7 linked regions of the Homo sapiens genome follow. The protein of the gene in region 3 purifies or fractionates together with the protein of the main gene of each other region. This does not show direct contact. Each region holds a gene or a part of one and is shown on either strand. Other genes may lie near its edges.

What was found.
Region 1: the proteins of ZDHHC23 (region 3) and CPNE8 purify together in Homo sapiens (affinity purification with mass spectrometry; one large-scale study listed by BioGRID and IntAct). This does not show direct contact.
Region 2: the proteins of ZDHHC23 (region 3) and RALB purify together in Homo sapiens (affinity purification with mass spectrometry; one large-scale study listed by BioGRID and IntAct). This does not show direct contact.
Region 4: the proteins of ZDHHC23 (region 3) and ETF1 purify together in Homo sapiens (affinity purification with mass spectrometry, with the first as the bait; one large-scale study listed by BioGRID). This does not show direct contact.
Region 5: the proteins of ZDHHC23 (region 3) and RNF144A purify together in Homo sapiens (affinity purification with western blotting; one study listed by BioGRID). This does not show direct contact.
Region 6: the proteins of ZDHHC23 (region 3) and TBL1X purify together in Homo sapiens (affinity purification with mass spectrometry, with the first as the bait; one large-scale study listed by BioGRID). This does not show direct contact.
Region 7: the proteins of ZDHHC23 (region 3) and UBTD2 purify together in Homo sapiens (affinity purification with mass spectrometry; one large-scale study listed by BioGRID and IntAct). This does not show direct contact.

What each region holds. Positions count from the first base shown.
Region 1 is NC_000012.12:38,895,592-38,899,091, reverse strand, and holds part of CPNE8 (copine-8), read left to right. Parts: intron 1-3,500. UniProt on the Homo sapiens protein: Probable calcium-dependent phospholipid-binding protein that may play a role in calcium-mediated intracellular processes.
Region 2 is NC_000002.12:120,287,352-120,290,851, reverse strand, and holds part of RALB (ras-related protein Ral-B), read right to left. Parts: intron 1,273-3,500; coding exon 1,095-1,272; intron 1-1,094. UniProt on the Homo sapiens protein: Multifunctional GTPase involved in a variety of cellular processes including gene expression, cell migration, cell proliferation, oncogenic transformation and membrane trafficking.
Region 3 is NC_000003.12:113,958,013-113,960,942, forward strand, and holds part of ZDHHC23 (palmitoyltransferase ZDHHC23), read left to right. Parts: intron 1-350; coding exon 351-618; 3' UTR 619-1,508; coding exon of another isoform or gene 1,509-1,531; 3' UTR 1,532-2,707; coding exon of another isoform or gene 2,708-2,721; 3' UTR 2,722-2,930. UniProt on the Homo sapiens protein: Palmitoyltransferase that could catalyze the addition of palmitate onto various protein substrates and be involved in a variety of cellular processes.
Region 4 is NC_000005.10:138,508,916-138,512,236, reverse strand, and holds part of ETF1 (eukaryotic peptide chain release factor subunit 1), read left to right. Parts: intron 1-632; coding exon 633-762; intron 763-1,036; coding exon 1,037-1,192; intron 1,193-1,607; coding exon 1,608-1,672; intron 1,673-3,321. UniProt on the Homo sapiens protein: Component of the eRF1-eRF3-GTP ternary complex, a ternary complex that mediates translation termination in response to the termination codons. The eRF1-eRF3-GTP complex binds to a stop codon in the ribosomal A-site.
Region 5 is NC_000002.12:7,021,912-7,025,411, forward strand, and holds part of RNF144A (E3 ubiquitin-protein ligase RNF144A), read left to right. Parts: intron 1-2,457; coding exon 2,458-2,605; intron 2,606-3,500. UniProt on the Homo sapiens protein: E3 ubiquitin-protein ligase which accepts ubiquitin from E2 ubiquitin-conjugating enzymes UBE2L3 and UBE2L6 in the form of a thioester and then directly transfers the ubiquitin to targeted substrates.
Region 6 is NC_000023.11:9,468,058-9,471,557, forward strand, and holds part of TBL1X (F-box-like/WD repeat-containing protein TBL1X), read left to right. Parts: intron 1-3,500. UniProt on the Homo sapiens protein: F-box-like protein involved in the recruitment of the ubiquitin/19S proteasome complex to nuclear receptor-regulated transcription units. Plays an essential role in transcription activation mediated by nuclear receptors.
Region 7 is NC_000005.10:172,235,265-172,238,764, forward strand, and holds part of UBTD2 (ubiquitin domain-containing protein 2), read right to left. Parts: intron 1-3,500.

The sequences.
Region 1 (3,500 bases), on a different chromosome or scaffold from region 3:
CTCTACTGGAATAAGTGGGGTTGTATGATTTTATAATCCATAAAAGTTGTGATAGCAGGTATATTGCAGTTAGGAACTTAGAGACTTTTAAATTTCTCCCTCTCCTTTTCATGTGGTTCTCTCTACACTTTTATTCTTCTCTTACTTTGAAGTTGTATTTTTCTTTCCCTCTTTCTCCATCCACTGGTGGCATATCCTTTGCAAGTTTACATGTTACAAGTCCAGCTACACTTAGTGATTAACTGACCATCTGCGAAAGCAAAGTTAGATTCCAAGAGAGAGTGTCTGACCCTTTTTGGAGTTGGCTGTCTGAGGTAGATACCTGTGCTGTTCTAATGATCTGCGGTGAAAGGAATCAAAGCATTCAAACACAACAGTTGGAGGCTCTACCTTAGTCCACATTGGTTCATCTCTTAGCATACTTTACCTTTCTTTAGTCAGACAAAAAATTTGGAGATACTATGTAAATAGATTTTCAAGTGATGTTGTTAGTTGATAAATTAAGTTATATAAGCTAGGGATATTAGACTGCCTGTTGTGCTGTTAATGAGCCATATGACAGGTAAACAGAGGGTAAAGTTGTTGTAGACCGTAACATCCTATTCTGTCTCTGCAGCTCTTGAGATCCTGTGGTTCAAGATTGTAGTCACCCTGTAGTGCCTTTTTTGATCATATTTAGGTTTGTCTTAGCCCCAGAGTTTCAGTAAAATTTGTCCTGGGAACTTTCTGAACTGTGGCGTTGAAGTCTTAATGTGAGAGTTGCCCTGGTATATTTTTTTTTCAGAGAAATACCTTACTTAACATTGTTGTTCCACCAGTATTTTGGTCTGCCTGTGTTTTTTAGCATTTGGGGCCTGAGGGGTTTTAAAACAGCCCTGGTATGTGGAGAATGCTAATCTAGAAGCAGTTTAAAGGACAGGATCCCACAGGAGAGGGTGGTAATAGCTGTGCTCCTTTAGGTCTGTTATTTGTGTTGTAGCAGGCAGAAGCCTATATCCCCTATTTGAGTTTACTCAAGACTGAGAAGAAATACAATTCCTCTCAAAGAGATTTCATCCAGTTCTTAGCCTGTTTGAGAGCCAGTTTTGCTTAGCGCTGAAGAACGTGGGTGTAGGGCTAGATTAGCTCTGCCACTTAGTATCTTTGAAACATCTGTTCCTCAGTTTCCTCATCTGTAAAGTGGGGATAATAATAGCCCCCAGTTCTTATATTTGCTTTGAGGATTAAATAAGTTAATACATGTAAGTGAGATAAAACACTGCTTGTGACATTAGTTAAGCACTCAATGATTACAAAGAGATAATAAAAAAATTAAAATCCTTCGCTGTTGCGTCAAACTATGAGCAAATGAGTTCATTTTTGTCTCATGTATAGCATCACATTTATATTCTCTCTGTGTATATTAATATATACACACATATAATATATAATACATAATACAATATGTAATATATTAATAGTGTGTATTAATATAGAATATAATTATATATTCTATACAATATTTTTCCTGTACTTTTCCCTTAATATTATATCATGAATATGTTGTTGTTATTAGTTTTTGGAAATATAACCTTCCATGTCTGTGCAGTATTCTATTATATGGTTGTACTATGTTTATTTAACTTAACCCTTGTTTTCCAAAATTTATTTCAAAAAGTTGCTATTCAAAACAGTGTTAAAAATGAGTATTCTCCATCACAAACATCTAACATCTCTGGTTACTTTTTTTTCCTGGGGATAGTTTTCTAGAACTGAAATGATTAATAAGCTATCTTCTCAAAGGGATTTTGGTAGCTTGTTTTGGTTACTTCCATCCCATTCCTATTTAAATACGCAGAATCAAGGCTAAGCTACTGGCTGCACTTTTCTAAATACTTTTATTACCATAAGAATGTTGCATTTAGAGATTAATGAGAATTTGAGGCAGCAGAGTATAGCAGCAAGAAAATGGAATTAGAAATCAGACAGATGTCTTTAAATCTCATTTTTATCCCTTTTTGGAATGTTATTTTGGGTAACCTGTTTCAACTTTTGGAACCTCATTTCCTAATCTGTAACATAGAAATTATTTAAAAACCAAAATTTCAAGGTTGTTGGATGAGTAAATGAAATAAAGTCTGTACAATGCCCAGCCTGTCACAAGAAAAGCACTAACTGGCTATTAGTCTTATCCCAGGTTCTTCAGCATTTTACTGTGTGGCACACAGCAACATAGAAGAAGGTATCTGTACTTTGGAAAAATTTATAGTCAATTTGGGGAGCCACAGAAACATAGAACCAAGGTGACAGTGATAAAGCTGCATGTTATCCCATGCTGATTAATTCAATGTGGAGAGAGTGTGGAATAAAACAGTCGTTAGAATAGTGTGGATTTGTAAATGCACACTCAGTTTCTACAGATTCCACCCCATAGGCCCACTTCTGCCAAGACACAATCAGTCATGTGGGATTTGACAGGTAGGAGGTAGTCTGCTATAATAACCAAGTTTTAGAACAAAAGAACATTCTTGTATCTGCTCAATAAAGTCAACGGGCTGATATTTAAGACAGCTGTTTTGTGTTGGGCATGATAAAACAGATACTGCTGTAGTTGCCAATACAGGCTGAGGTAAGGCAAGTAGTTATTGCCTGTAATAAAATAGGATGTATTTAAAAGGTGCCTGACCCAGGGACCAATGATGTTCACTCCCTGATACACAATACCTTAATATTGGCAAACTTAATGACAACATTCAGTGTTAGTGCCTCTCCAGCCAGGACCATTAGCTACCAGACATTCTTGTTCAAATTGTGAGGGTTTTTGTCAGGTTTATTCTGTGAAGAATAATGTTGCAGACCTTCTGAGGGAATCATCAGCTGATTTTCTGAAACTCTGAAGAAACAAAATATCACTGATAGTCCCCAGCAAATATTTCTATTTATTAGACAGTAAACGAATTCAAATATAAGCTATTTTAATGAAGCCAAGAAACATGCAACTTTTGGATATTTGCCATCTATTTTCTTTAAATTAATCTCAAAATCTAACTCTTTGTCAGACAATGTATAAAGTGGTTAATGTGGGCTAATTCATTCAATCCTTGCAATTCTGAAAAGAGGTGATGTTATGTCCTGTTTTACAAGTGAAGAAATTGAGGTTTAGAGAGAGTATAAGTAATTTGGTTTAAGTCACGTATCTAGTAAGTGGCAAAGTTGAGTTCCTATCCATATATGTCTAATTCCTAAGCATAAGCTTATGACCATTAGCTATATTATGTTGTTCTTCCATAAATTCTTTATTGTCGGCTTGAAGAGTGGAGCTCTTTTCTGTCAATACCAGTGTGTTAGTAACTAAAAGAAATTATAAAGCTTAGGAGATGCAATTATAATAGATCATATCAACACTACTCTACCACAAAGGATATATTTCTCTGAGGATGCAAAACACAGAATGCTTTCCTGTTTTTCTGTTCCCTACTGGTGAGAGCTTTGAGTAGAGCAATTCATAGGAGTGGCATAAA
Region 2 (3,500 bases), on a different chromosome or scaffold from region 3:
AGCCTCATCTTTAAGGCACAGCGTTAAAATTTTAGCTGTGTGGCAACCACCTTGAACTTTAATTTTAAAAAGAAAAAAGGCCTAACAATAGCAATCCCTGATAGGTGGATTTTCAAATTGTCAGCATTCATCATTGTCACTCAAGGTCACCCTTTTATTAGCTTCAGAGATTTGAATGAGAAAGTATGCTGGGATGGGATAAGAGATAAAAAAAAAAAAGAGATCCCAGAGATTTGAGTTCTGAGAGCAAATACTATTTAGAGACTACACTACAAAGATGGAACACTGTGGCTCTGTCAGTGAACAGTAAGGTGAAAAGAACAAATCTGACCAATAACTCAATGAGAGCAAAATCAAGAAGCTCCACGTATCTTTCAAGGGCACCTCCAGGGGAACCTCCTAGAAGCAGCCAGGCCCGCCCACCCTGCTCCTGAAGAGCAAGGCTGTGGAAGGTGAGAGCACACACAGAAGCTAATGACGTCCATCCCTCCAGCCCAGCCTTCACAAACCAATGGCCTCGTCCCACCATCCTTCCCAGGACCACACCAACAGTAAGCATAGTCCGCCGGGTGTGGTGGCTCACACCTGTAATCCCAGCACTTTGGGAGGCTGAGGCAGGCAGATCACTTGAGCCCAGGAATTTGAGACCACCCTGGGCAACATGGTGAAACCCCATCTCCACAAAAAACAGCCAGTGTGGTGGTGCACACCTGTAGTCCCAGCTACTTGGGAGGCTGAGGTAGGAGGATTGCTTGAGCCCAGGAGGCAGAGGTTGCAGTGAACTGAGATCACACCACTCCAGCCTGGTGTCACAGTGAGACTTTGTCTCAAAAAAGAAAAACCCAAAAGAACACATTAAGCATACTCTAATGAAGCCTCATGACAAAGTAAAAGGTTCTGTGAGTTGTCTGAAATACAAGGTGACATCCTCTCAATGTTTCTCATTATAATCATGATAATGGCTTAGACATTCATAGGAATCAGAATCTTCACCTAGTTTTCATAAATGGTTCCCTAAAACCCAGCAGATGAGATGCCTCCATTCTGCTGTTTCTCAGGTCTGTTTCTGAGAAATACACAGAATTCACGCCTACCTTGTCCACGTTGGCCCGGGTCTTCGCTGACGTCTCCACGTACTGCACGCCCCACTCTTCGGCTTTACTCCTGGCCTCCTCCACAGGCACCTGCCTCCGCTCCTCTAGGTCAGACTTGTTTCCCACGACGAGCAGTGGAATTTTATCTTCTTCAGCCTTCACACGGAGAATCTGTTCCCTAAGGTGTTACACCAAAAATACAGCAGCTAAAAAAACTAAAGAACGAACCCTGGTTTTGTGAACCCATCTAAAATAAAAGGCTTTCCTAAGGCAGAAGGAAAAAAAAAAATCACTAGATTTAGGGCATGTTCTGAGAAAGCACTCCCTAGAGGCAGTCATGAGCAAGACAAGTGTTTTCCAAGTCTGCTTCTCAGTTTGCCCACATCAGAATCCCCTGGGATGCTCATCACAAATGCAGATTTCTGGGCTCAGTCTTACAGAAGTGTCTGGATAGGAGCCCAGGATTTTACGTCACAACAGGGTCCCCAACTTATGCACACACAAAAAAAAAAACAAAAAGAAGAAAAATGGTCAATCTCTGCAATAAAAACAAGCTAAGGGAACTATCTCCATAAAATGCTTAATTCCCCTGAAAATATTTGTTTGTGACATAAAAGCTATGAAATCCAGTGTTTTCTATATGGAAGGTGGCAGCCTATTAGTGGATCACAAAACCAATCTAGTGGGTCGCAACCAGCAGTTTCTCCCCCCTGCAGTGAAATAGATTATAGAACAGAACTGACCAGATCAGAAATATCCAAGGGAATCTCAAGTAGGAAAGGTGAATATTGTATTGTTTTGAAACTTCAGTTTTGATTAGATCTGCATGTGTACACGACAAGTATGTCATCCCATCCCCAGTTTCCATGCAGACACAGTAATGTTATAGGCCACAGAATCGAGACAGATATGTTAGGCAGTAATCACATTCCAATACGTACCATTTTTCTACTACAAAGTGAAAAAAATGAAAGGAAATACGACAAGCCCTATGGAAAAGTACTTCAAAAGTGTCTTCTACAAAAATACCATTACTCGTAGCATATTAAATTTTACGTCTACTAAAAATTATCAGCTATCTGAAAGTACTAATCAAAACTAAATATTTAAAAAAATTAAATACCCCATTTCCATTATTTTGGTCCCATGAGAATATTTCTACTTTTATATGCCAATACATTCTAAAAAGAGTCCCCTTCAAAAATGTATTTTGTAGAGATCTGTATTGATTTTTATATGGTATAGGGTAACATTTCACAATAATAAAAATATTTTCTAGGCGTGGTGGCTCACATCTGTAATGCCAGCACTCTGGGAGCCTGAGGAGGGAGGAACACTTGAGCCCAGGAGTTCAAGACCAGCCTGGGCAACATAGGGAGACCTTGTATCTACAAAAAAAAAAACAAAAAAAAAAACTAAAATTTTCATGTAGTCAATTTAAGTGCCAGACATCAAATATTTTAAGACAAACTAAAAAAGATGAAAAGATGCTTGAAATTGGCTTTGTGTAGCCTTGTTATAGCCTACATTTGAACTGGGGTCAAAGAACATGATACATTTGAAGTCATGTGATCATTATAAACTATGAACAATAAAAACTGATAGCTTTCTGGCTCATTAGTCTTGCAGGGGCACACAAAATTACCTCATTGATAAACATATCGATCCAAAAATGGGAGTACCAAGTTCTGGTCTCTTATGACAGAACTTATCTTAGTTCATAAAATATTTTCCAGAAAAAGTTTCAAGGAAGACAGCATATTCACATGTCATTTTATATTGGGGCCTTTCTATTTGGAAGATAGTACACAAATGCTGTTTTAAAACTGCTAACAGACATGAAGTAAAGTGACTTGAGTTTAGCCACAGGGCTCAGATAATTGACCTGCATTCTTCTGTTCCCAACAACATGAGAAACCTACGCAGAGGTCAACTTCCCCTTCTTTCTGGTTTTAGGTATTCATCTGTCCTTTTTCTTCTAAGGATCTCTCTTTCCACCTAACAACCAAAACCCTTTTCCACATTGAGGGGAGCCCTGCTCCAACTCTGTGAGAACGCCCGAGTGCTATCTGTGCATGTGTGGTGACTGAGGAGAGGACAAGGAGCACTTGAAATACCTGTATTTCTCCATATCCTCTGCAGAGAACTCTCCTGCCCACTTCCCTTCTAAGTAAGTCACAGAACAACAGGAAATCAAAAGGCTCGGGACAGGGAAGAAAAGAAGAGAGTGTGTGCATCTGTCCTGTTTTACCCTCTATGAGGCATTAAAAACAGGACTACGCAGATGCAAACAATTATAAATACATGGGCTACATTCAAACAGAGCAGCCCTTAGGAAGGTCTGAAATGTCTAAAAATTAACAGAACTTCTCATAATGAGTCATAGTCACTTAACTAGTCACTGCA
Region 3 (2,930 bases):
TCATGAGTTAGATGTAATTTACGAATTACTTGTTTATTTAACAAACAGGTGTTGAACGCTGTTATGTCAGGCAGCGTGCTGGGTGTGTGGAGGGTACAAAATGCAAAAAACAGTCCCTGCTATTCTAGTGTAATATACTAGAAAATAGGCACCAGTAATTATAGAATAAACACACACATTCTCCTACTTAAGCAGGTTATTGGCATTCTGAGTATCTTCCAGTTCGGAGGGTTGGGGAAGATGCCAAAGTCTTTAGTAATAAGTAAAAAAATGTGTAAAACGTGAGAATGATGACAGTTTTCTGAATTTGACAAAAACGGCAGCCCTGACAGCCTTTTTCCCTCTCCTAGCTCGGCTCTGTCCTTCACCTGCGTGTGGTACTCTGTGATCATCACAGCAGGCATGGCCTACATCTTCCTGATCCAGCTGATCAACATCAGCTACAATGTGACTGAGCGGGAAGTCCAGCAGGCCCTCCGACAGAAGACTGGGCGCCGGCTCCTCTGCGGGCTCATCGTGGACACAGGCCAGTACAATAGGGGCTTCCTGCGGAACTGGCACCAGTTCTCCACCCTGGGCACACGTGCATTCCACCACCCTGCCGAGGACATTGTCTGAAGTGCCTTCTATGTGGCTCTCTGAGGGATGATGGCTCCTCCTTCCGTCTCCCTTCCATTTTACACTTCAGTGTCCATTTCTATCCCCAGTTTCTTAAAGGCATTATAGGGCCATGCTCAGGTTTAGAGACTGGAGTGGGAAGAAGTTAATTTTTCTGACGCCACAACTTAAGAGACTTTTATACTGAGGCAGTAAAAGTAGAGCCATTCCTTTCCAGTCACCTTTTTAATTGACTCAGTTGCCTGAACTTGAGAAGGATGTGGATTGCTAATGCACAAATTGATAGAAGCAATTCCCATCCATTAGTATGGAGGAAAGAGTGTTGGATTAGGATAGTTTCTAGTCCCTCTTTCGATTCTTAATAGCCATGTGACCCCTAGCTGAGTCACTTTCCCAAGTCTCAGGGTCATCTGCAAAGTGGGGTACTGATGCCTGCCCTGGCTACCTCACAGAGCCGTCATGAGGGTCACGTGAGGGAAGATGGATGTGGAAAGCACTAAAAAACAACTCAAGAGCCATGGAAATACAAAGTATTAGGAAAATATTATGATGGAAGAAAAACGTTTATAGTCTAGAATATTGAAGCCAATATTATTAGGGTAATCAGTTTTCAGCATATACCTTGTTGTACAGTTATGAGAATTTCTCCTTCTTATTAGACATGAACTACTCAAACAGAGAAGATGACCAGATGGATTGATGCTAAGTTGTCTCATCTTGAAAAGACAGTTGACAACAGTTATAAAGATAATTATTGCTAGTGTAATGTAGTGTGGCCATGAGTTTAGGTGATGAGTTCTTCTATTTATATTTTATAAATTCTGCTTGGGTTTCTTATAAATAACTCCAACAGGCATTCATGTGTTTTTCCTCTTCCCATGTTTCACCAGGTAAGGTGCTAGCACACTTGTGACTGTGGCTGGAAGAGGAGAACAGACACTCCTGTGGGGATGCTTTACTCTCTTTTCTGGTAGGAAGGCTGAGTAACATCACGGGCTCGATTATTTTCTTCATGTATTTCAAATGCTGTCAGTTATAGCACTAAATTGTGAAAATCAGCCTTCTGGCATTCACATTATTCTGGTATGAACTTTGAGGAGTTGAGTGACATCTTCCCACTTAACTTGCACATTAATTCTCAATTACCCCTCCCTAAATAACAGTATCTCACTAAGAGAGAAGAAACAGGGTATATGTGGTTTCCACTATTAATGGATTACTGTTCTTCCCTGGCTCTTCCGACAATAACAAGTTGTTTCTTTAATCATATCTTAAAACCGAAAATGTATAAAAGATTAAATATTTATGTACAATGGGTTGTTCTACTATAGAATTAAGATGAGGGAATTTCAGATGAGGAAAATACCCTTTTGAAATGTTAGTTTTGAACATGTACTGTTGTGCAATCCCAAAGATAATTCATGACTCCTTAAATTTGCCTTGGCTTATAGCTTAATATAGGGAAAATATTGCCAGCGTTTTCAGTCATTCTGTGCATGCTGCTTTAAGCAAGAGATTTATATTTGTTGAGAGGAAATATTGCTACTTCCTGCACTTCCACCCTCTGCAGCCAGCACCGTCCCTACTGTTGCCATTAATTGGAGCTGTCCTTAAGATGGTCACCATATTCTTATTCAGGCTGTTGTCATTTTCCCCAGAGATGGTTTGTTTAACGAATGATAGGCTCTGTGCCTGGGGATGTTAGCAGACTCTGGGGTTTGTACAGTGATGCCTTCTCCCTGGCCCAGAGCTGAATATTCATCTAGAATTAAAGTTGGATTTGATATAACAAATTTCTTTCTATACAGGTTTTACATAAGAGAGACAGTAATAATGTCAAGGATAGCCTGTGTGGGCAGAAATTGGTAGTCGTGCTTTTGAATGTCAGCTGTAGAGCCAACTCTGATTATCTAGCCATTGATCATACAAATTGATAGAAACATTAGTCAGTAATTTTAGCTTCTTGCCAAATTGTTCACAACATCTAAATGTAATGTGATGTGATGAAGATAAGTAGTACAAAGAGACCAAAATAATTTGGGAGAATTAGGAATGATGACAATTTTTTTTAACAACTTACCTCTAATAGGGTTACTTGGATGAGCCAACTCCGCTTCCTTCCCATGGATAGGAAGGGACTCTGTGTATTATTCAGGTTTATTGGCACGAAGATACTTGTTTTAAGTTCCTTGAGAACCCATGATGGACAGTTGACAGAATGCTTAAACCTGTCAAAAGATGAGTGATCTTGTGTGGGAAAAGCCTTCCCAGGCGTCTGTACCGAAAGGAGCAGCAAACAAGGGGCTAATCCA
Region 4 (3,321 bases), on a different chromosome or scaffold from region 3:
TATATATATATTTTTTTTTTTTTTTTTTTTTTTTTTTTTGAGACTGGGTCTGGCTATCTTGCCTAGGCTGGAGTGCAGTGGCAATCATGGCTCACTGCAGCCTCGATCTCCCAGGCTTAAGTGATCCTCCCAGCTCAGCCTCCCAAGTAGCTGGGACTACAGGGATGTGTCACCATGCCCAACTAATTTTTGTACTTTTTGGTAGAGACAGGGTTTCACCATGTTGCCTAGGCTGGTCTCAGAATTCCTGGACTCAAGCTGTCTGCCTCTCCTAGCTTCCCAAAGTGCTGGGATTATAGGTGTGAGCCACCCTCCCCAGCCCGTCTTAACCTCTACTACCTTATTTGGCAGGAGCCAGTGGTCCCCCCTTTCCTCCACAATAACTTATTTTTGTTTGCACTTAATGAGTTGTCCTATAGTAGGTCTAATAAAATGTGTGATATAATTGGCAGTGCTGTTCACTTTAAGAGCAGCTTTTGATTAAATTGGGCTCCTTCCCCATATTTAGACTTCAGTGATCATAATGCTGAGCTTTGCATACCATTAAGAGTTAGTGGGTTTGAGTAAAGGTGTTTTAATAATATTTTAAATAAGTACCAGTAAGTACTAATAATATTTTTTTTGTGTGTTAGAGGTTACAATCAAAAGTTTTAAAATTAGTTGATATATCCTATGGTGGTGAAAATGGATTCAACCAAGCTATTGAGTTATCTACTGAAGTCCTCTCCAACGTGAAATTCATTCAAGAGAAGAAATTAATAGGTATCGGTGAAATGCAACTACTTATTCTGTGAAATGTTTTCGTGTGTGTGTGTGTGTGTGTGTGTGTGTGTATGTGTGTGTGTGTATGTACGTGATTGTATGTATGAGACAAGGTACCAAAAATGTAAAAAGGAATATTTAGTATTTTTATTAACTCTTTTGCCTCAGTAAAAGCATTATTTTTTATCTTCTTTAGTCATTAGGTCGAATAGGTGTGTTTGTATCTACTAGGGAAACTTTAATATATATCCTGTTGACTGATCCCTAATCGTAGGACGATACTTTGATGAAATCAGCCAGGACACGGGCAAGTACTGTTTTGGCGTTGAAGATACACTAAAGGCTTTGGAAATGGGAGCTGTAGAAATTCTAATAGTCTATGAAAATCTGGATATAATGAGATATGTTCTTCATTGCCAAGGCACAGAAGGTATGAGAATTAGAAAATAAGGTTGCTATTTGTTACTGAGCCAGGAAGCCTGGGGTGGAGATTTGGGAGGGATGGCTGATTTCAGGAGCAATCAGAAGGTAGATCTACCCATTGTTCCCCAGTCCTTCAGTCTGTAGCACATTCCTGCATAGATTTTTCTGCTTGAACTGTTTAACGTCTGCTTAAGATTGTTACATCTGCTGAGGACCAGGACTATATCTTGAACATCTCTGATGTTCCTTATGGTTGAAGCATTGTACCTAGTAGACACTCAGTGTATGCTAACATGTTTATGGAAAAAATGTTGAGAGATTGAGTCCCTGAGCCCTTTTCTCATCTAACCTCATCTTATGGAGCTTACACAGATTAGTATATGAGAGCCAGGTTAACACATTTTTTCCTCCTAATACTACAGAGGAGAAAATTCTCTATCTAACTCCAGAGCAAGAAAAGGATAAATCTCATTTCACAGACAAAGAGGTATGTGATTATTTTCTTGGTTTGATGATACGTGCAAGCGTAAATCCGTGTGTTAGAGTACTGGCTGTGTAGAGGGTGAGCTTTGGGAAACCAAACCTTATACTAATTGGGGGTGCTGTGGGAGGTGGTCATCTATCTGCCACATACGAATCTGATTTCAGGGAAGGAGCTGCAGCTTTTTTTTTTTTTTTTTTTTTTTTTTTTTTTGAGACAAGGTCTTGCTCTGTTGCCCAAGCTGGAGTGCAGTGGCATGATCTCGGCTCGCTGCAACCTCCACCTCCTGGGCTCAAGTGATCCTCTTGCCTCAGCCTCTCTGGTAGCTGGGACTACAGGCATACACCACCACGCCCAACTAATTTTTGAATTTTTTGTAGAGAGGCGTTTTCACCATGTTGCCCTGGGCTGGTCTCAAACTCCTGAGCTCAAGCAATCCACTTACCTCGGCCTCCCAAGTGGTGGGATTACAGGTGTGAGCCACCATGACCGGTCTTTTTTTTTTTTTCTTTGAGATAGGGTCCTGGTCTGTCACCCAGGCTGGATTCAGTGGCACAATCATAGCTCACTATAACCTCGAACCCCTGGGCTCAGGCAATCCTTCTGCCTCAGTCTACTGAGTAGCCAGGAGTACAGGCACAAGCCCTCATTCCCTTTTTTTTTTTTTTTTTTTTTTGAGGTGGAGTTTGCTCTTGTCACCCAGGCTGGAGTGCAGTGGTGTGATCTCGGCTCACTGCAACCTCCACCTCCCGAGTTCAAGCAATTCTCCTGCCTCAGCCTCCCGAGTAGATGGGACTACAGGCGCCCGCCACCACGCCTGACTAATTTTTGTATTTTTAGTAGAGACTGGGTTTCATCATGTTGGCCAGGCTGGTCTCGAACTCCTGACCTCAGGTGATCCACCTGCCTTAGCCTCCCAAAATGCTGGGATTACAGGCGTGAGCCACCATGCCAGGCAGCCTAATTTTTTTTATAGAAATGGGGTCTTGCTGTGTTCACCAGGCTGGTCTTGAACTCCTGGGCCCAAGTGATCCTCCTACATTGGTTTTCCAGAGTGGTGAGATTACAGACGTGACCCACCATGCCTGGCCTGGTTTTTGTTTGTTTGTTTGTTTTTGTCTTTGTTTTTAAGTAGTTAAGCAATCAGGAAAACATTTCATTATCCTTGAAATTTAATAGGGAGGAAAATGTAATTTACATAATGCCTCTCCTGCACTGTGAAACCTGTGCTGCTTTCTTCACTTGATCAGCTCTTCCACTGCAGTGGCTTCTCTGGTTTGCTCTAAGTGCATCACAACAGTTGAAAGTATGACCCTCCCGTATGAGATAGGTTTAAATGATAGCTTCCTCAAATTCTGGTTTGGAGAGCTTTGTTCTCTACGAGGCCACTCCCAAAAGCAGTCCTGGAATGTCTCTTCTGAGCCATTGAATGGGTGCTGCTTAGAGACACTACAACAGCCTGACTTCTAGAGTCAACAGTAGGAATCATAAGCTGAATACCCACTGAGTTTTTGTGTTGGTATTTCATAGCTGAGGGTAGAGCCTGAGGAGAAGTGTTGTTTGAAATAATCCGAATTTCTCTGCTGATATCCATTAGGTTATCAAAACCAGAGATGACTTACAGAGCTTTACACACAGACATGCCTATAAATGGG
Region 5 (3,500 bases), on a different chromosome or scaffold from region 3:
ATTCTAGTCTCATTTAAATTATTGTCCAAAGATGATCTAAATCAAAATTCAGAAATCTCATTTTGTGGAAATTTTTAAATCAGAAGATGTCACATAAAAACTGGAATTTCTGGCTTCTCTGGGAAATCCGAATCCTAAGCCTCTCCGAGGCTGCCTCCCCATGCTGGCAGCCAGCGTAGCAGAGCCCCAGCTCTTGCTGGAGGCGCCTCCTGGGCCAAAGCCCCACAGTCCTCACTACTCCTTGTCCCCTGGAACTGAGGCTGCCTGTCAGCTGCCATTTATAACTGAGAAGACACTAAGCTATTTTTTGTATTGGAGGGTTTGTTGTTGTTGTTGTTTTTGGTTAAATCTTCTCCTCAACCATGTTTTTATCCAGCCCCTGACCACTTCACTCATTAGCATCACCTGCGCACCTCTTCAAGCTGCTGGGCCACGTGTAGATTGTGATTAAACTGTCCAAACTCCTCTCTGCTTTTATAATTTGAGTTTACAGTAAATGTTGTTAGTAATAATTTTAAATCCAATTCAGATACTAAGAAATATTTGAAAACCATTGTCTATTCCATGCAAAATTTTATGCATAGCACAGTACACCAGAACTTTCATATTTTAACGGTTTTCATTTTGAAATGTCTCCCCAGGAGACACTGTACACGCTGTTCCTGCCGTTTCTTCCAAAATCAGCTTGTGAGTCACATGAGAAAATTGGTTTCTTAGCTTTAAGGTCACACCTGGCTTTCAAACCAAAACAATGTTATCTAACCTAAAACCCAACCTTGATCACCAGATCCGGTGTCTCATGACTTCCAGCTTTTTGCAAAATCAAAGTCATTCTCAGAAGGAGGCCAGGCCTAAGGTTTACTCGGAGCTGGCTCTGTGCTGGATCCCTCTGGAGACATTTGCACATATGCTATCTCGTTTGCTCCTTGCAACAACCTTAGTTCATTCTTTATCACATTCTGCATGACCAGGTTGGTCTGCAGTTTGCTTTTAAATTGGAAGCATTTGAGCTAGTGACAGTTGTGTTATCTTTCAGTAACAGTTGTTAATAATAACTACTGTTTATTGAGTGCCTGGTACTTATGTGCTGGATTTTGTGCTTAACATGTTAACATGTGCAACCTCTGTAATCCTCACAACCGTCTGTAGAGATCGATGCTATTAGCCTTATTCATCTGGTTTGCAGATGAGACACGTAACACATAAATCGCACAGCTAGGATCTGTCTGTCTCAAGACTCTGTGCTCCTAATTAGGAGGACATACTGCTTCTCTCATTATTTCTTACTCTGTTGCCTTCTACTAATGGACCAAACAGTCACGTTCAGTTGGAATGTGCACCCCAAGTGGAGGATTGTTCACTGCCAATCATCAGACAGCTCCTACTAAAGTGAAACTACATTTAATGCTCATATTGACTGGAAGCTTGTGAGAGATCCTTCAGCCAGAATGCACTCAAAAAGCCAGAATTTGCTCAACTGCCGTGAATATATACCCATACATGTGTTAAATTCTGAAAAAGCTGCCCCGAGAAGGAGGGATGCATTTTCTCCTGCTGATGTTTGTTTGATATAGTGAGTTCCAACAATATAGCAAATGGACCCCCATAATCAGTGATAACTCCTCTTAACAGTTTATCATTTATTCCTTCAGATGCTTTTCTGAATATTCTTACCCATCTTTTAAAAATTAACAGCATGGGGTGAGTCATACCTAATGTCTGTGTTATCTTTCTTTAGCAACATTGAACTACTGCTACCCTTTATCAAGCACTTCATAAAAGCTGCACCCTGCGCTGTGCTCTTGGCACACGGAATCTTTTCTCATGGTCACACTGATGAGAAAACTAGGGCTTGGAGGGTTGCTCCACAGCTGGTTTGTAGCAGACCCAGCTCTGACCTCAGCTTAAAGCCCTTCTTGCTAACCCTGCAGACCTAGCCAACTTCTGAGGAAAACAATTCTGTAAGAAGAGCCAGGTGGATCTATCTCAAGTAAACAGTGTGTGTTTGTGTGTGTGTATTTGCAACATTTATTTATTTTTCTTATAACAGCAAAGTACATAAAATTTATATCAACCCTTTGGAAAGTAGACAGCTCTGTGAATAAGGATACAATATTTGACCTTAACACTATGATTCAGATACCTCCGTTATAATAAGCCTTTCGCTGTATTTTCTTTTGTTTGTATACATATATCTCTAAATTTAGATATGTGTTGATGTTGCTGTAATTTTTTAAAAATTTTTCCTAACTCAAAGTGGCTGATTCACAGTGTTCTGGTTAATTTTTTTTTTCTGGAGTTTCTGTTTCTTTGTTTTTTGGTTTTTGTTTTGTTTTTTCATTTAATACCAAGAAAACTCAGTCTGTGAAGTGGAGCCGATGCTTCCAGCATAGCCAGTGCTCCTGGGTCTCCCGTGGGATCCGTTTGTGCAGAGTCCTCACGGCGTTTCTCCCACAGTGCTGCTTTCAAAATGGAAGAAGATGACGCGCCCATCAAGCGCTGCCCCAAGTGCAAAGTCTACATCGAGCGAGACGAAGGCTGCGCGCAGATGATGTGCAAGAACTGCAAGCACGCCTTCTGCTGGTACTGCCTGGAGTCTCTGGACGTGAGTACGGCCTTCAGCTTCACCTTGCGGCATTTAGCTTTGAGGTTTAGATTTGGAATGAGAAAAATAGACCAGCTGTTTCCTAAAGAGCTTGGTGCCTACTCCTGTGTAACAGTGAAGCAACACCGTTTGGTGTTTCTCCTGGGTTTGTGAAAACATTAACTCATGAGCGCCATGGGGACAGAAGCCTTTGTGACTCGTATAGTCCTGGGGTCTAAACACTTCATGCAGGTTCAGGATCCAGCCTGGGATTTAAAGGGGTTTTAGCATCTTAGGTTTTGTCTAAGCGGGGACTGTCATTGTCAGTTTGGGCTGCTGTGACATAATATCATAGATGAGGCAGGTTAAATGACAGACATTTATTCCTCATGGTTCTGGGGGCTGGAAATCCAAAATCAGGGTACACCAGATTTGGCTCCGGGGTTCCTGATCAGGACTCCTTCCTGGTGTTCAGGATAGTGAGGACAGACAGAAGTGGGGGCTGGGGGGCTGTTGGGCTTGGGGCCAGTCTTAAGACTTCATTGACACTCACATCATCTACAGGGCGGGAAAACGTGCAAGCCCTTTGCTCTCTGGCAGAATGGAAGTTCTGGTCTCATACGGCAGCCTTCTCCTAAGTATGCTCTGCTTCAGTGTTTCTCAAACACACCCTACCGTGTGTGCCTGCAAGAGCCATGTCCCTGACGGGAGGGCACAATCTCCCAGGCCCACACGTCTCTGGAGCTTTGAGGCCTGATGCACAGGTTGCTGCTATTTAGCTTCTCATTCTCCTTCCTTGCCCATATTAGGGCGTGGGCATCTTGCCAAAATGATGAAGCTATGATTTTAGTTTTAGAATAATTTATTGATGCATACTTTTTTAAGAACTATAATTAGGCCAGCCTCGGTGGCTCAC
Region 6 (3,500 bases), on a different chromosome or scaffold from region 3:
AATTGGAAACCGTTACAAATGGAATTGGAACAAATTTAAAGTTAAGATGGAAGAGAGAATATGTTGAGTTTTCAGAGGAAGTCGGGTACTGCTTCCTTTTCTTGTCTAGGTTTGTTCTTGTCCGATGGGATCAGAGAGATTTGAGATGGGGCATGATAGGCGGCGGGTTCAGGAGAAAGGGAAGCTTTAGAAATGAAGGTAGAAAAGATGCTTGCTTATTGGAACAGTATTTTCAACGTTGAGCTCTGGAATGTTGCAGCCAACTAATGGTTCTCATTTGGGACAGTTTTGTCCCCCACTTTTGAAGGGAGCATTTGCCAATGTCTGGAGACATTTCCCTTCCTGCAACTGTTAAATTAGCAAACAGGTTGAGCCAGCTGGGTGTGGACCTGCATTTTCCTCGTGGAGGCCCTCTTCCAAGTGTCAGTAGGAAAAGGGCTCCCAGAGTGTGGTCCTGCTGCGGGACCTTGGCCCCCACGTCCAAGTGAGCCCCAGAGGTGCCCCAAGCCCTGCCTGGTCATGGGGAATCTGGGCTCCCGCTGAACTTGGGCGCTGGGGACAGCTATGAGGGAAACCTGGTTTGCAGCTAGCTTGCCGTGCACTGACTGGAGCTTTGGGCAAATCAGTGAACTTCTCTAACATTAATTTTCTCATTGAGAGAGGAGGTGGGTAGGAGTATATATATATATATGTAATTATATATATAGGGGTCGGGTAGAGGGAGAGAGAGATTTCCCAGGCTCCTTGTATTAAAGGAGATAGAGTTATTATATTTCTCATTTAGTTTTTATTTATTTGTTTATTTTGAGACAGTGCAATTATTATAGCTAGCTGCAGCCTCAACCTTCTGGGCTTAAGCAATTCTCCTGCCTCAGCCTCCTAAGTAGCTGGGAGTACCAAATGCGCACTACCATACCTGGCAATTTTTTTATTTTTATTTTTAGTAGACACAGGCTCTCACTGTGTTGCCCAGGCTGCTCTCAAACTCCTGGGCTCCAGTGATCCTTCCTCCTTGACCTCCCCAAGTGTTGAGATTACAGGTGTGAGCCACTTTACTCAGTCGACCGACATAGAATTATTATAATGCTTGGAGCCTAACATGCCTTTTTTGTTTGTTTGTTTGTTTTTTCTGAGACGAAGTCTCTCTCACAGCCCAGGCTGGAGTGCAGTGGTGCGATCTCGGCTCACTCTGCCTCCCGGGTTCAAGCGATTCTCCTGCCTCGGCCTCCTGAGTAGCTGGGATTACAGGCATGCTCCACCACACCCGGCTGATTTTTGTATTTTTAGTAGAGGTGGGGTTTCACCATGTTGGCCAGGCTGGGCTCGAACTTCTGACCTCAGGCGACCCTCCCGCCTCGGCCTCCCAAAGTGCTGGGCTTATGGGCATGAGCCATCGCGCCCGGCTAGCCTAACATGCTTATAGTTTCCTGTTTTCTGAAGTTGGGAATTGGGTCTGGAAAGGTATCACCATCAGTCACGATGGTGTCTAGTAGTTTGCTTTGTTTTTTTCCTTATCTTTTCCCTCTTACATTTTAGGGCTGTATCTATATAATTTTATTATTTAAATTACCATATGGTAAGTTTGTCTCTTTGGGTGCATTATGAGTCTTGACACATGCATAGATTGGTGTGACCACCATCATCATCAGGAGAGAGAACAATCTCCTCAGCCCAGAGATGTTCATGGCTCTGTCTCCCACAGTTCCTCCACAGTCACCCCCCCCAGCCCCGAATCTGGGGCACCCAGCCATCTGCTCTGCTCTGGAAGTCTTGGGGATCCCATCTGAATGTAACACATGGTGGAATGCCTTAGGTGAATCCATCCGCTCTTCCAGTACCACCTTTGCCTCCTCTCTCTGATGACACATGAACTTCATGCCTTTGTGTGCTTTGGCCAACCGCTTTTCTTAGAACAGCACATTTTGCACTGTAGATGTTATCACAAGCAAGGAAAAAACAGCTTTGCTCCTTAATGTAAGAAACCACAGTGGAAAAACATCAGGTGTGTTGTTGAGGCTGCTAAAGCTTTGCTCCTTTTTAAAATTTTTTAAAAATTTTTCTGGATACGTAGGTGTATATATTTATGGGGTGCATTAGATATTTTGATATAGTCGTGCAGTGTATAATCACATCATGGAGAATGGGGGTATCCATTCCCTCAAGCACTTATTCTTTGTGTTACAAACAATCCAATTATACTCTTTTAGTTATTTGCTCTTTTTTCTTTTATTTTGAGACGGAGTCTCACTATGTCGCCCAGGGTAGAGTGCGGTGGCGCGATCTCCGCCCGCAAGTTCAAGCGATTCTCCTCCTCAGCCTCCGGAGAAGCTGGGACTAGAGGCATGTGCCACCACACCTGGCTAATTTTTTTGTATTTTTAGTAGAGATGGGTTTCACCATGTTGGTCAAGCTGGTCTCAAACTCCTGACCTCAGGTGATCCACCTGCTTAGCCTCCCAAAGTGCTGGGATTACAGGCGTAAGCCAGCACGCTCGGCCTATTTATTTCCTCTTTGTTCTATGCCAGTTAGTTCTTGATGCCTCATTGTTTCAGATGGGACATTTTCTAATGTCGTGTTTTTGTTTTTGTTTTTTTGAGACAGAATTTCATTGGTGTTTCCCAGGTTGGAGTGCAGTGGCATGATCTCTCCTCACTGCAACCTCCGCTTCCCGGGATCAAGCAATTCTCCTGCCTCAGCCTCCCGAGTAGCTGGGATTACAGGCATGCACCACCATGCCCGGCTAATTTTGTATTTTTAGTAGAGATGGCATTTCACCATGTTGGTCAGGCTGGTCTCGAACTCCTGACTTCAGATGATCCACTCGCCTCGGCCTCCCAAACTACTGGAATTACAGGTGTGAGCAACCATGCCCGACCTCTGATGTCCTTTTAGAGGATGTTACCCTCACCTTTATTGCACAGTCCTACCAAAAGGTACTTCATATGTGAAATGTATCAGAAGGTTATAGTCATGGCTTTAGTTTAAAAACAGGATACATGTTCATTAAGGACCTTTGCCGTTTTCCCAATGGGTTAATCACGTAAATATAAAATAGGCTAAAAATATCAAGTTGTTTTTGCCTTTGTTGTAGAAATAAAAAAATGAATTCCTACATCTGTGTTTCTATGGAGCTGCTAACCTGTGTTTTACTCTGGGCCATATGTCGCTTTCTGTGATCTCATGACGTGGCATGTTTTCTAATATAATCCTTGTCCTGGCATTTTGGTGACTTTTGTCCTGCCTGAGGTGGTCTACCTGGTTGTGTGAAGTCACAGAACCTGTGCATGTCCTACCGTGTAGAGTTAAAGGGCTGGATGAGTGGCCTCAAGCCTTTTCCTCCCTCCCAGGTGTGAAGATTTGGTTTGGAAGATGGACCCTGCTTCAAGGTCTGGGAGGCCATGTTTTTTTCAGACTGGTTAAGGATGACGGTTTTATGTTAACTAAACATTGGGATCAAGTGACAGTTGTTTATGTCCGGTGCCTAGAGTATCAGTTTTCCC
Region 7 (3,500 bases), on a different chromosome or scaffold from region 3:
GTAGGAACTGAGAAAATCCAAAGAGGTAAAAGATTGCTTTTCAGTGCCCAGAGAAAGAAGAGCCAAACCACCAGAATCATGAACAAACTGATTAGAGGAATGCTTCCTCTAGCATTCTACTCTCTGGACTTTAGTCAAGGAACTGTAAATACCTTTCTCTGGAACTCAAACAGGAACTAATTTACAAAGGGTAGAATCAGTACTTTAGTTTTTTTGAGGAACTGGGAGTAAAAGAGATAATCTTTGATGCTAGGCCAAGGGATTAGCTCCGAACCACAAGGAGCAGAAGAACTATGATACCCTACCCTAGTTTCAACCCAAGAGAAGAAGAAAACAGAGGGCAAGTGGCAGCATCTCCCCTTAGACAATGTTATGTAGTAGTAGCGCTGGAATAAGCCTGATGCAGCATCCTTGCACCCAGATAACCATCTGGTGTATTATCTGTGATCTATTTCCATGGGTCATACTGACCTACAGAGCCATTCTTATTTATGGCTCTGTAAGATTATACAGTGCTATAGATAGGGAATAGTTTGATAGATGGGATAGAAGATAGAAAGAAAATTGAAGCTGGATGAAAAGATAAGAAGAGTGTTGGAAAAGAGTGGGTGGGAAATAAATGACACAGCGAGTGGGAAGGAGAGAGGGTGTGTGTCAAAATTCAATGTTCTATATTTAATTGCAGAAAGAATACCAATTTTAAAGAAATCACTCTCAAACTGGTTCTAAAGCATCCATGAAATTGACTACTCCCTCATTGGCCCAGGGCCAGATGAAATTTGGACTATGCAAAACAGAAAATAAAATGACTCCAGACCCTGGGCTATCTCTACTCTCCAGGCTATATTCTCAATAAAGACTGCCAGGTCAGGTCTCTTCTGTCCTCTCCCCTCAGGGTGGCACACCAAAAGACTAGCTGTTTTCCACTTAAAACACTCAGCATTAACTCAAATACTTTTTGCCCTCTAACTTGTCCTAGTGAAATGCAAAACAGGTGAGTTCTGAAAGGGTGAGGAAGCAGAATAGGAAACCCATCCATTTAGTAGCAGAGCTGGAAACAGAATCCAAGTCTCTTTATTTAATCAACAAATATGTACTGAGTGTCTACTGGGAGTAACACTACAGATGTGCCTATTACATTTAATTCAAATGCGAGAAACACAGTCTATACTAATGATTTTTCCCTACCTCTTCCAAATAATACAGACAATGCAGCTAGAGCATAATTCTCTAGAAGATGTTCAGAATCTGGTCTGATAACCACAACCCACTGATTGCACCAACACGATGGAATGCAAGGTTGATTTTATTTTCTGCTACATTATCATTTAGATGAGTTAGAGACAGTTTACAGACAACACTCAGCTTACTGACCAGGAAGTGGAAGATGGCACAGTAAGCAGGTAGACTCAGTAAGATATTTATCTGAATAAAGTTTTGGGTCTGAGTATTTCTACAGAATTATCTGGCCTCATATGTATTAAATGCATGAGAGATAACTCAGTATAATTTTTCCTGTCATTCTGAGAGAATTACAAAGCATGGACAAAAACAACAAAACCTCTACAGAAGAATCTCAGGACCTAAAACTAAAGCAAATGAAAGGAAGAGGACTTTGAAAAGAGGAAGCCAACAGAAAAACAATCATAATAAGGGTACAAAGTACCTTGGAAAAATTGTAAAACACCTTCCTTACAAATGTGAGGTAGGTTCATTTCACCTCTCTCCGTTTGTACTAAGCATAGATGAACAAAGTCCCACAAAAAGAACAGATGATGCGTTTATGTTGCTTAAGGAAAATCATTCCAAATGCATTTTCTTTAATTTTTAAATTTTATTCATATACTTGAGACAGAGTCTTGCTCTGTCGCCAAGGCTGGAGTGCACTGGTGCAACCCGACTCACTGCAACCTCCGCCTCCTGGGTTCAAGCGATTCTCCTGCCTCAGCCTCTCGAGTAGCTGGGACTACAGGCCCGCGCCACCATGCCCAGCTAATTTTTGTATTTTTAGTAGAGACGGGGTTTCACCATATTGGCCAGGATAGTTTCAATTTCTTGACTTCATGATCCGCCCGCCTCAGCCTCCCAAAGTGCTGGAATTACAGGCATGAGCCACTGCGACAGGCCCCCAATGCATTTTCAAATCTACATGCTGTCAAAAGTTTCACGGTAATTTGTGACATGAAGGAAGATTACTTTTATTTGCCTATTTCTGCCTGTATTATAAACATAATATAGAATATCTGTCTATAGAATGTCCACTGTTAAAAAATGATTAAATCTTTGTAACATAATTACTTTAGTGAAACCACAGAGCAGTGCAGAATTTTCACTACAAAATCTGAGGCTTGAAGCTTCATGTTAAACTAAATGACTAACCTTTGTTAAATAAATAACTGGGAAAAAAATTAGCATTTAGCAAAAGCATTTGAACTATCCTCTCGTGAAAACATGAAAATATTTAGGTTTGTTAAGAGGACTTAAGTTCATATTCATAAACCACTCATAATAATGCATGATATACAATAAAACTGCAAATAAATGTTTGCTAAATAAGTAAAAATGAACTTAGAGGTACTATATGAAATAACATCTTTAAGTCCTTTGGCAAAAATATACAGGCTGTCTTTCTTCTTTTCATAACTTCCCAATCCCTTCCTTAAATGTTAAAGAAATGTCCCTGATTGTCATGCACTTCCTGTGCCTTATCAGAGTACACTTGCTAGGCATTTGTTCACCAAATCTTATCCTTTGAGTTCAGGTGGTGCCACAAACCTGTATTTCTGAAAATGCAGTAGTTGGACATAGATTATCAGCCTGGCAGCTAAGTACCTCATGTTTGTACCAAGCCAAACATTTTTGTAAGATGTAGAATATATACATACTCAACTAGATTTCATTTTATGCTCTTAAACTTTCAGTTTTATCTGCTTCACACATCTTCTGACTGCTGATACCAAAAGAGAGATGCTTGGTAATCATACATAGCATATAGGACTAGGTACCATGCTCTAACAGTGAAGAATTTAAAGACAGGAAACATCTTTTATTCCCCAAATTTCTGCTTCTCTATCCTTAAACTGCAGGTAACCAACCATCTTTAGTGCACTATGAATTAACATATGAGAAATAAAAAATTAATAAAGCAATCTAATCTTAAAAAACCACACAATCTATTTCAGAAAATATCCTTTCCCCCATCAATCCACATTTACTTCAAAACGTGTCCAAAAGTCATCTTTTTCTCAGAAACCTCTTAATCATATTCACCCACTCTTTATCTTTCCTTGTAATCTTTAAACACTTCTTCCCACTCTGTAACAAATAAACAGATCTAACACACAGAAAACCCAAGTAAGGCTTGTTTCTCAGATCTAAATAACACATAATTTTAAATATTTTTACTACATAATTTAAAGCATTCTACCAAAAACTCATTTTGACATTGGTAAAAAACAATCAATTCTGAAGTTAAGTATGATTATAATTGTTTTCCTGTT